Linked DNA regions of Homo sapiens. The protein of the gene in region 3 purifies or fractionates together with the protein of the main gene of each other region. This does not show direct contact. Each region holds a gene or a part of one and is shown on either strand. Other genes may lie near its edges.

Evidence for each region.
Region 1: the proteins of GALM (region 3) and ATOX1 fractionate together in Homo sapiens (co-fractionation; one large-scale study listed by BioGRID). This does not show direct contact.
Region 2: the proteins of GALM (region 3) and GALK2 fractionate together in Homo sapiens (co-fractionation; one large-scale study listed by BioGRID). This does not show direct contact.

The regions. Positions count from the first base shown.
Region 1 is NC_000005.10:151,745,477-151,748,787, reverse strand, and holds part of ATOX1 (copper transport protein ATOX1), read left to right. Parts: intron 1-2,338; coding exon 2,339-2,463; 3' UTR 2,464-2,509; intron 2,510-3,311. UniProt on the Homo sapiens protein: Binds and deliver cytosolic copper to the copper ATPase proteins. May be important in cellular antioxidant defense.
Region 2 is NC_000015.10:49,176,628-49,180,283, forward strand, and holds part of GALK2 (N-acetylgalactosamine kinase), read left to right. Parts: intron 1-3,656. UniProt on the Homo sapiens protein: Acts on GalNAc. Also acts as a galactokinase when galactose is present at high concentrations. May be involved in a salvage pathway for the reutilization of free GalNAc derived from the degradation of complex carbohydrates.
Region 3 is NC_000002.12:38,724,978-38,728,633, reverse strand, and holds part of GALM (galactose mutarotase), read right to left. Parts: intron 1-3,656. UniProt on the Homo sapiens protein: Mutarotase that catalyzes the interconversion of beta-D-galactose and alpha-D-galactose during galactose metabolism.

The DNA.
Region 1 (3,311 bases), on a different chromosome or scaffold from region 3:
CCAGGTTCAAGTGATTCTCCTGCCCCAGCCTCCCGAGAAGCTGGGATTACAGGCACATGCCACACACTGAGCTAATTTTTGTATTTTTAGTAGAGATGGGGTTTCACCACGTTAGCCAGGCTGGTCTTGAACTTCTGACCTCAAGTGATCCACTCGCCTCAGCCTCCCAAAGTGCTGGGATTACAGACATGAGCCACCACGCCTGGCCAACCATATGATTTTTAAGGCCCCTTGCTGGAAGATCTGCCTTTAAGCTTCGGCAGGTTTCTGCCCATCTTTTCCTACTGTCCCTGCTTGGGTGGCCTCTTGAGAAGGGTCAGGAGGGTTTTTTGAGTTGCTTATGGCCCTAAAAGAACAGTGGTAGGGCTGAGGAATCACAGACTGATGGCATCCTTGAGCTGGAAAGGCCACAGGAGCTGGCCAGCCCTGACTCCTTCATGTACAGATGAGGTAGCTGAGGCCTGTGAGAAGCAGGACCCTCCTCCCACCGACTCCCTGCCCATGGTCACCCAGCAAGTCAATGGTGAGGCCAGGCCTAGAACCTATCAAGAGTTTTCCTTTCTTTTTGCACTCTTTTGTCAGAGTAAAACTCTGGGTCCTCCCATGTGCTGCTGGGGAGCTGTAAATTGGCATAGCCATTTAGGAGGGCGATTTTGCAATGTCTATTAAACATTCAAAATGTGCCAAATATCTGTTGCCCCACAATTTCCATTCTGTGAATTCATGGTATAACAATATTTTTATAAGTGTTTTAAGACAAGTTCAAATATGTTTACTATAACATTGTGATAGTGGTGAAAAATTAGAAGCATCCTCAATGACCTTTAACAGTGGATTAATTAAGTGGATGTGTGGTACGTCCACACTGTGGAAGATTGTAGCTTTTAAAAAAAGAATAGGGCCGGGCACTGTGGCTCACGCCTATAGTCCCAACACTTTGGGAGGCCAATGCAGGTGGATCACCTGAGATCAGGAATTCAAGACCAACCTGGCCAACATGGCGAAACCCCATCTCTACTAAAAATACAAAAATTAGCTCAGTGTGGTGGCTCATGCCTGTAATCCCAGCCACTCGGGAGGCTGGCTGAGGCAGAAGAATCGCTTGAACCCGGGAGTCAGGCTACAATGAGCTGAGATTGTGCCACTGCACTCCAGCCTGGGTGACACAGCGAGACTCTGTGTCAAAAAAAAAAAAAAAGAATGGACCGGGTGCAGTGGCTCACACCTGTAGTCCCAGCACTTTGGGAAGCCAAGGCAGGCGGATCGCTTGAGCCTAGAAGTTCAAGACCAGCCTGGGCAATATGCGAAACCCTGTCTCTACATAAAATACAAAACTTAACCAGGCATAGTGGCATGTGCCTGTAGTCACAACAACTTGGGAGGCTGAGAAGGGAGGATCACCTGAGCCCAGGTATTCAAGGATACAGTGATTTGTGATTGTGCCACTGCACTCCAGCCTGTATAACACAGTGAGACCCTGTCTCTAAATAAATAAATAAATAAAAATGAATAAATAAAGAGAAAAGTAAAATATTAGCAAGACCTGTTTATATAGTGTGATGCGATTTGGAGGAATTATTTTTCATTTGTCTATCTAGGACAAAGTCTAGATAGAAGCCAGACTGTTCACAGTGATCTCTAGGGGCAGGATCAGTAGGGGGCCTTACTGCTTCTACTTTTATTTAGAAATGTTTGCTTTTTTGAAAAAAAAAAAAAAAGTGTCTATATTACTTTTGCAATTAAAAAAAAAAGGTGGCTGGGCACGGTGGCTCATGCCTATACTCCCAGCACTTTGGGAGGCCAAGGCGGGCAGATCACTTGAGATTAGGAGTTTGAGACCAGCCTGGGCAACATGACAAAACCCTGTCTCTACTAAAAATACAAAAATTAACCAGGTGTGGTGGCATACGCCTGTAATCCCAGCTGCTCCAAAGGCTGAGGCATGACAATCACTTGAACCCAGGAGGTGGAGGTTGCAGTGAGCTGAGATCATGCCACTGCACTCCAGCCTGGGCAACAGAGTGCGTCTCTGTCTCAGAAAGCCCTAGTATAGAACAGAGATCAGCACATGGGCCAAATCCTGCTCACAGCCTGTTTTTGTATGTTCAGGAATAGAGTTATAAAAAAAATACACAGAATATACAACAGAGTCTATATGTGACCCACAATGCCTAAAACATTTGCTTTCTGGCCTGTTACAGAAGAAGTTTGCCGATCCCTGCTCTAGAGGAAAGGGCAAGGGTGGTTGTGAGTAGTAATTTAGAGCCTGAACTCTTTCTTGCTGTAACTGGGAGGGTCTGTGCTTCCTCTCCCCATACCCCATTTCCTCTTCCTGCAGGAGTTAAGTATGACATTGACCTGCCCAACAAGAAGGTCTGCATTGAATCTGAGCACAGCATGGACACTCTGCTTGCAACCCTGAAGAAAACAGGAAAGACTGTTTCCTACCTTGGCCTTGAGTAGCAGGGGCCTGGTCCCCACAGCCCACAGGATGGACCAAAGGGGGCAGGTGGGTAAGGCCCCAGCACTTGCTGAACAAACCTACAGCTCACACCTCTCATCAGAGCGAACACCTTGGCCTTTGAGAGCTTGAGTGGAGCGGGAGAGCCCTCTGGGTTCTTTTCAATCCACTGTCCACCTTCTTTGGAGTGGTTACAAATATTTTATTATTGTCTAATGCAAATCACAAGTTCAGGGAATTCTTACAGACCCTGTGAGTGGACAGAGCACTGTGTAATGTCTCCCAGAGTCCTCTTTCAGACTTGAGGGTTGCAGTTCATGGTTAGCAGGGTTTAAGTTTACAGTATGTGACCCTAAGCAGTGCACCTTTGACTTCTTTATTTGTTCATTGGTTTGAGACAGTGTTTCACTATATGGCCCAGGCTGGAGGGTAGTAACTCTTCATAGGTGTGATCATAGTGCACTATAGCCTTTAACTCCTGGGCTCAAGTGATGCTCCTGCCTCAGCCTTCTAAGTAACTGGAACTATAGGCACCTATCACCACACATGGCTCTGGCTTTGATAAACTGACTATCTCATCAGAGTTGACACTTGTGCCTTGGGCCTTGTTCTCCTGTGCCCTGACCAAGTGAGTTAATTCAGACTGTGCCGCTCTCTCTACTTGAAACTGTTGTCAGCTTCCTGAGCATGCCCTCTGTCCAGACTGGTACAAAAACAATAGCATGTTTGAGCTAGATGTTCCCTTCACTTTTATGTAATCCAGTGATGCAGTAAGGGGCACTGTGCCAGCACTCTTCGCTCTGGAACCAGGCAGACCTTACTCATTGATCCAGCCACAGTCTCAGCAGGG
Region 2 (3,656 bases), on a different chromosome or scaffold from region 3:
TTCATTTAATCAACAGATTTCTGGTGCTGATTACCTTCATATTCCTGGAATGAACTCTGCTTGGTCACATAGGTTATTTTAGGTAATTACTGCATTAAATTTACCGACATTTTATTTAGGGTTTTTCTATCTATTTCCACAAGTGAGATTAGCCTATAGTTTGCTTTTGAGGGCCATTCTTGTCAAATGTAAGCATCTGGGTTAGACCAGCCTCCTAAAATGAGATGGGAAACTTTCCACAGCTTCTATTATTTAGAACCATTTATAAAAAGAAAATACCACTTTTTCCTTGAAGGTCCAACCAACTTGTTGTAACACTTTTTGGGCTTTGTTTCTGACAACTTTTCTATTTCTTTATTTTTAAACTCTTGTGTCAATTTTAGAAATTTGTATTTTTTCTAGAAAAATCAGCCATTTAAAAATTTTTAAATCTTTTTAAAATTTATGTTTGTCTATTATTTCTAGTATTGATTATGTTTAATGACACTCAAAGTTCTTTTTCTATATATTTTTTTAAATTGAAGAACCACCTTGTAATTTTTTTATCCAATCTGCTATTTTCCCCTGGTTCAATAAATTTTGCTTTTATCTGTTAATTTGCTTCTTCTAATTTATTTAACTACTTTTTGCTAGGTTCCTATGTTATATGCATACTTTATTTATTTTCATTATTTATTTTCTTTTTTTCTTTTAAATAATTTATGTTAAACCTATTGTATCACACAGTATGTTTTAAACACTGCCAGATAACTCCCTAATCAGATAAAGCAAAGACAAAAAAGTTTATCTTACTAGAAACAAGAGACATCATCACTTATAGTTTTCAAACATTATTGCACTTTAACTGTCATAATTTGACAAAGAATTCATGAAATAATCTACAGACTAGTTTTAACAGACAAATAATACTTGTAAGCAGACATGACTGTCCTAAATTGTTTTTTAGGTATCAACTTTACAAACATTACTTACATTAGTGGTAACGGTGGAGTTGGAGAGTATTGTGCCTTTTCCAAGATGCACAGTGAGAATCACCAGGAGTGTGGTGGAACTTATGACCCTACCAAGGCCACGGATCTTTCGGCCTGCAGATGTCAGCCCATGCATCACCCTTTGCTTGTGGACTGGTTTGGTGATCCACTGGGTGGCAGGATTTTTTCTGACAGCATTATGGAGTGGATGAATGAGGATAACTTCAAACATTTTGTATGTTGAATCTTCACCGAAGTGAGAACTCAGGACTCTTAGCCGGGCATGGTGGCTCACACCTGTAATCCCAGCACTTTGGGAGGCCAAGTTGGGTGGATCACTTGAGGCCAGGAGTTCGAGACCAGCCTGGCCAACATGGTGAAACCGCGTTTCTACTAAACAAAAATTACAAAATTACAAAAATTAGCTGGGTGTGGTGGCGCACACCTATAATCCCAGCTACTTGGGAGGCTGAGGCATGAGAATTAGTTGAACCCAGGAGGCAGAGGTTGCAGTGAGTGAGATTGTGCCACTGCACTCCAGCCTGGGTGACAGAGCAAGACTCTGTTTCAAAAAAAAAAAAAAAAAAAAAGAAATACTATATATATATATATATATATATATATATATAGAAATAAAATGTATAAATATGTCTATATGTATAAATAAAAATATATGTACATGTATATCATATATACATGTACATATATGTATGCACATATATGTATGTACATATATACATGATGTACATGTATATCATGTATACATGTATATATATGTACATATATATATATATGTGAATTCAGGACTCTTAGAACCCCACAGTGGCGTCCAGCTTTCTCGTCTTCAATGGACTTCAAGCATACTTTAGCTGGTTAACACCACAGTGGACAGGCTTGCCATAAGCTGCACCCTTAGGAACTGGGCATTTTCGGCCACCATGGTGCACACGAATCCTATATATAACGTAAACTTGCTTGGCCTTGTAGCCCTGTCGGTGCACTTTTTTGGGCTGGGTGGGATGTGGAGCCCTGTGGTAGAGCAGAGAGCTGTCAGTACTGCTAGCAGGGACTCTCCGAAGAAAGTGCATGGTATCAGACTGCTGCTTCCTCCACAGCTCCTGAATGTACTTGTATGCAGTTATCTTGGCTTACCTGATGGCTGTTGCCAGACGGAAAGGAAAGAGCCTTTCTCCCCCATTATTTATTTTCTTATATGAATAGAAGGCTAGAAAATTTTCTGAGTGCTATTACGGTTGTGCCTCATGGGTTTTGATATGTAGACCTCTCATTATTATTTTCAAAATAGCTATAGCTGTGGCCTTAATTTCCACTTTCCTTCAGCTTCTTGCTCATTAATTTGCTCTTTAACTCTTTTCATTCTTCTATTCAACCTATCTACTATTTTTATTTTCACCATCATAACCTCGTTTTCTAAGATCTCTAATATAATTTTAATTTTGTTTTTATGTTTAATTTTTGATCTTGGAGAAATTTATTGTGATGAAAGGAACAAAACAGAGATTCAAATTCACCCTCCTTTCCCAATGGTAATTACCAATCTTTGAAATTCCATCTCTAACATATATTAAATTCTCAAATATAACAGTAATAATAGTAATAACTAATAATTATTTTATACTTATAAAACCCTCAAACAAACCTTTGCAGTGAGTTCTAGTATTAGCCTCAGTTTGTAGATGAGGAAAATTGAGGCATGGAGCAACTCATACAAATTAACATAAAAATTCATGTTATAACCAATTGTTCTTAAATTAGTATTAAAAATTAACATTTTCTATAATGCCATGACTCGATATCCTGATATTGAAGAGAAAACAAGCACAGACAGGATGGGGGACTTGCCCAAGGTCACAGTGGAAGACTGAAAATACATGTCATAGCTCCTGAAATTTTAATTCATTCATTTCTGCAGTTAGCCACACGGTCTGAGAGAATCAGTCCTTTTATTAAAGTCCATTTCATTCACAACAGTCATAGCTTTGTTTCTCAAGTTCTGTTACTAATACTGCTGTTCTTTTTTCTTTGTTTCTTTCTTTTTTTTTTTTTTTTTTAAGATTTTAAGTCAAAAGAGCATTCAGAGCACCAGAGTCAGCAATTTGTGCTGCAATACTTTGGCCAATTCCCCATTTAACAGTATGATCTTTGTAGGAGCTCTTATTTTCATATTGAAATGCTCATTGTATTTTTTGGGGGGCATACTTTCAGTGACTGCATTAAGACACAAGGTCTTGTTGGTAGCTCACCTAGAGGTAAAATACAGCTACTTCCCCCAATTACAGCCCTACCATTCATTATTAGAGGGTTAGGTATGAAGTTTAGAAAAACACTGTACACTTCAGTTCTTTCTGTTCTTAGAGAAAAATGCCTTCCTTGTTTCCTTTTATAGCCTCCATGCATTTGAATTTCTAAGGTAGGAATGTTGTATAGTAAGCCTCTTGGTACTGAAGCAGTTATAAGCCATGAACAGACTGCCTTCCCAAGGAAGTCTAGGAAAATGACAAAGTTTTATAATTCAAAATAATTTCATTAAGACACATTTTAGGAGACTTATTCTAACTCTGCTGTTAGCACTTCATGTTATTTGTGTTTGCAGTCCTTATAAAAACAAATTAATAAGGATTCAAGTTCAGGAAAACTTGAATTTCATCTGTATATGATTTTCAC
Region 3 (3,656 bases):
AGCTCAGTGCAACCTCCGCCTCCTGGGTTCAAGTGATTCTTCTGTCTCAGCCTCATGAGTAGCTGGGATTACAGGTGCACACCACCATGCTTTTGTATTTTTAGTAGAGACGGGGTTTCACCATGTTGGCCAGGCTGGTCGTGAACTCCTGACAGGTGATCTGCCCACCTCGGCCTCCCAAAGTGCTAGTATTATAGGCGTGAGCCACTGCACCCAGCCAAAAAAAAAGTTTTTTTTTTTTGAGACAGAGTTTTGCTCGTCGCCCAGGCTGGAGTGCAATGGCACAATCTCAGCTCACTGCCACCTCTGCCTCCCAGGTTCAAGTGATTCTCCCACCTCAGCCTCCCAAGTAGCTGGGATTACAGGCACACACCACCACGCCCAGCTAATTTTTGTATTTTTAGTAGAGATGGGGTTTCACCATGTTGGCCAGGCTAGTCTCCAACTCCTGACCTCAGGTGGTCCACCTGCCTTGGCCTCCCAAAGTGCTGGGATTACAGGTGTGAGCCACCACTCCTGGCCTAAAAAGTTTTCTTATAGTCCCAGAGCTGTCTCATATATTTTAAAGGTAAATGCAAATGTTAGGAGGTTAACATACTCTTTTAGGGTGATAATTATTTTTCCCTTTCATGTGGTCAAATGGCAATTTTAGGAACTTGGCTTCCACTGTAATCAGGGGAGAGAAGTAGCATGCAAAGTAGGGCTGAAATCTTAGGAGGCTAAGAAAAAGCAGGAACTTGTACCTTACCATTAAAATAATTTAAAAAGTAAAAGAAGAACCAATTGCCAGTCATTTAAAACATTTGGTTCTGCTTTTGTGGGTTCCTAAATGCTGAGAGAACACACAAATCTATCTGAGTAAAAGAGGACATTTCATTTATTTTTCCTTTTTCTTTTTTTTTTTTTTTTGAGACGTAGTCTCCCTCTGTTGCCTGGGCTGGAGTGCAATGGCCAGTCTAGGCTCACTGCAACCTCTGCCTCCTGGTTCAAGTGATTCTCCTGCCTCAGCCTCCCGAGGAGCTGGGACTACAGGCACGCACCATCATGCCCAGCTAATTTTTGTATTTTTAGTAGAGACGGGGTTTCACCATATTGGCCAGAGTGGTCTCGAACTCCTGACCTCGTGAACCACCTGCCTTGGCCTCCCAAAGGGCTGGGATTACAGGCGTGAACCACTGCACCCGGCCCCATTTCTTTTCTTAAACTCAGAACTGCTGTTCAGAAATGTAGTCTTCCTAGTGCCTGAAGACTGGAGTTCTGAGTTCACATACAGCCTCAGGATGCCTAGGTACGAAGCACTCAAGTGAGACACTGAGGTCCAGGCGATACCATCCTGGTGTGTGGGTGTCCACTGTTTAACCGAGAGAATCTGGGAAGTGCACAAAGGATTCCTTGCTCTTTTTTTTTTTTTTTTTCTTGAGACGGAGTCTCACTCTGTCGCCCAAGCTGGAGTGCAGTGGCTCAACCTTGGCTCACTGCAATCTCTGCCTCCTGGGTTCAAGTGATTCTCCCGCCTCAGCCTCCCAAACAGATGGGATTACAGGGGCACACCACCATGCCCAGCCAATTTTTGTATTTTTTGTAGAGACGGGGTTTCAACATGTTGGCCAGGCTGGTCTCAAACTTCTGACCTCAAGTGACCCACCCACCTTGGCCTCCCAAAGTGCTGGGATTACAGGTGTGATCTGGCCAAATTTTTAAATAGGGAATATTTGCACATGCAACCAATTTTTTTTTAAGACAGAGTTTTGCTCTTGTTGCCCAGGCTGGAGTGCAGTGGCGTGATCTCGGCTCACCACAACCTTGGCCTCCCAGGTTCAAGCGATTCTTCTGCCTCAGCCTCCCAAGTAGCTGGGATTACAGGTGCCTGCCACCACACCCAGCTAATTGTTGTATTTTTAGTAGAGATGGGCTTTCACCGTTTTGGCCAAGCTGGTCTCAGGTGATCTGCCCATCTCGGCCTCCCAAAGTGCTGGGATTATAGGCAGGAGCCACTGAGCCCGGCCGAGACTACTTCGGCTTGCATTTGTCTGGTTTACTTTTGCATTCTTATTCTGAGTCACTTGGTTTGTATACAGCATTGTGTTGGGATTAAATGTGAGAGACTTGGCCAGGCGGGGTGGCTCATGCCTGTAATCCCAGCACGTTGGCAGGCCGAGGCGGGCGGATCACGAGGTCAGGAGATCGAGACCATCCCGGCTAAAACGGTGAAAACCCGTCTCTACTAAAAATACAAAAAATTAGCCGGGCGTAGTGGCGGGCGCCTGTAGTCCCAGCTACTTGGGAGGCTGAGGCAGGAGAATGGCGTGAACCCGGGAGGCGGAGCTTGCAGTGAGCCGAGATCCCGCCACTGCACTCCAGCCTGGGCGACAGAGCGAGACTCCGTCTCAAAAAAAAAAAAAATAAAAAAAAAAAAATAAAGGCACTTTTGTTTCCCAGTAGATGGTGCTAGAGACACAATAGAAAGAGGTTGCTTTACATCCTCTAAACCCTGATCAGTTCTGGCAGAATTCATAGTTGAACTTTTTGGATCTTGAAAGCCAAAGGCCAAATCCTAGATAGCAGTGTGACCCACTTGGGTATGCTTTTGTCCTGCAATGTTTACATGATATACTACCTCCCAGACTTGCATGGTGGCTCATGCCTGTAATCCCAGAGGTTTGGGAGGCTGAGGTGGGCGGATCACTTGAGGTCAGGAGTTTGAGACCAGCCTGGGCAACATGGCGAAACCCCGTCTCTACTAAAAATACAAAAATTAGCCAGGCGTGGTGGCGCATACCTGTAATATCAGCTACTCAGTAGACTGAGGCACAAGAATCGCTTGAACCCGGGAGATGGAGGTTGTGGTGAGCCAAGATTTCACCACTGCACTCCAGACAGAGTGAGACTCTGTCTCAAAAAAACAAAACAAAACAAAACAAAAAAAAGAAAAGAAATGAAAAGAAAAAGGCAACAATAATTCTTCTTTTTCTTTTTTAAAGACAGGGTCCTGCTATGCTCAAGTGATCCTCCTGCCTCAGCCTCCTGAGTAGCTAGGACTACAGGTGTATGCCCAATTATATATATACGTGTGTGTGTGTGTGTATGTGTGTGTTTAAGAGCGAGGGTCTCGTTCTGTTACCCAGGCTGTAGTGCAGTGGCATGATCACAGCTCAATGCAGCCTCGACCTGCCAGGCTCAGGTAATCCTCCTGTCTCAGCTTCCTGAGTAGCTGGGACCCCAGGCATGTACCAGCACCCCTGGCTAATTTTTAAATTATTTGAAGAGATGGGGGTCTCACTTTGTTGCGCAGGCTGGTTTCAAACTCCTGGGCTCAAGCAATCCTCCTGCCTCAGCCTCCCAAAGTACTGGGTTTACAAGCATGAGCCACCATGCTCAGCAATTCTTCATGAAACAATTAGACTTGGAAAAAAAAGCAGGTATTCTCATGGGCTCAGGAAGATTTTAGTCTTACCAACCTATATTCTGAGTGGTAACTTATGCTTTCTTCTATAACTTTAAATGGTGTTACAATATTTAATTCTTCCTTAAAGCCACAGTCAACTCAAAATCTAACCCTTATGACAGTCCTAGTGTGATCGACTCAGGTCAATCAAAATTGCTTATAATTATCTCCCTTAAAGTATAACTACAGGTAGAAGGCTTGAAGAAACAAA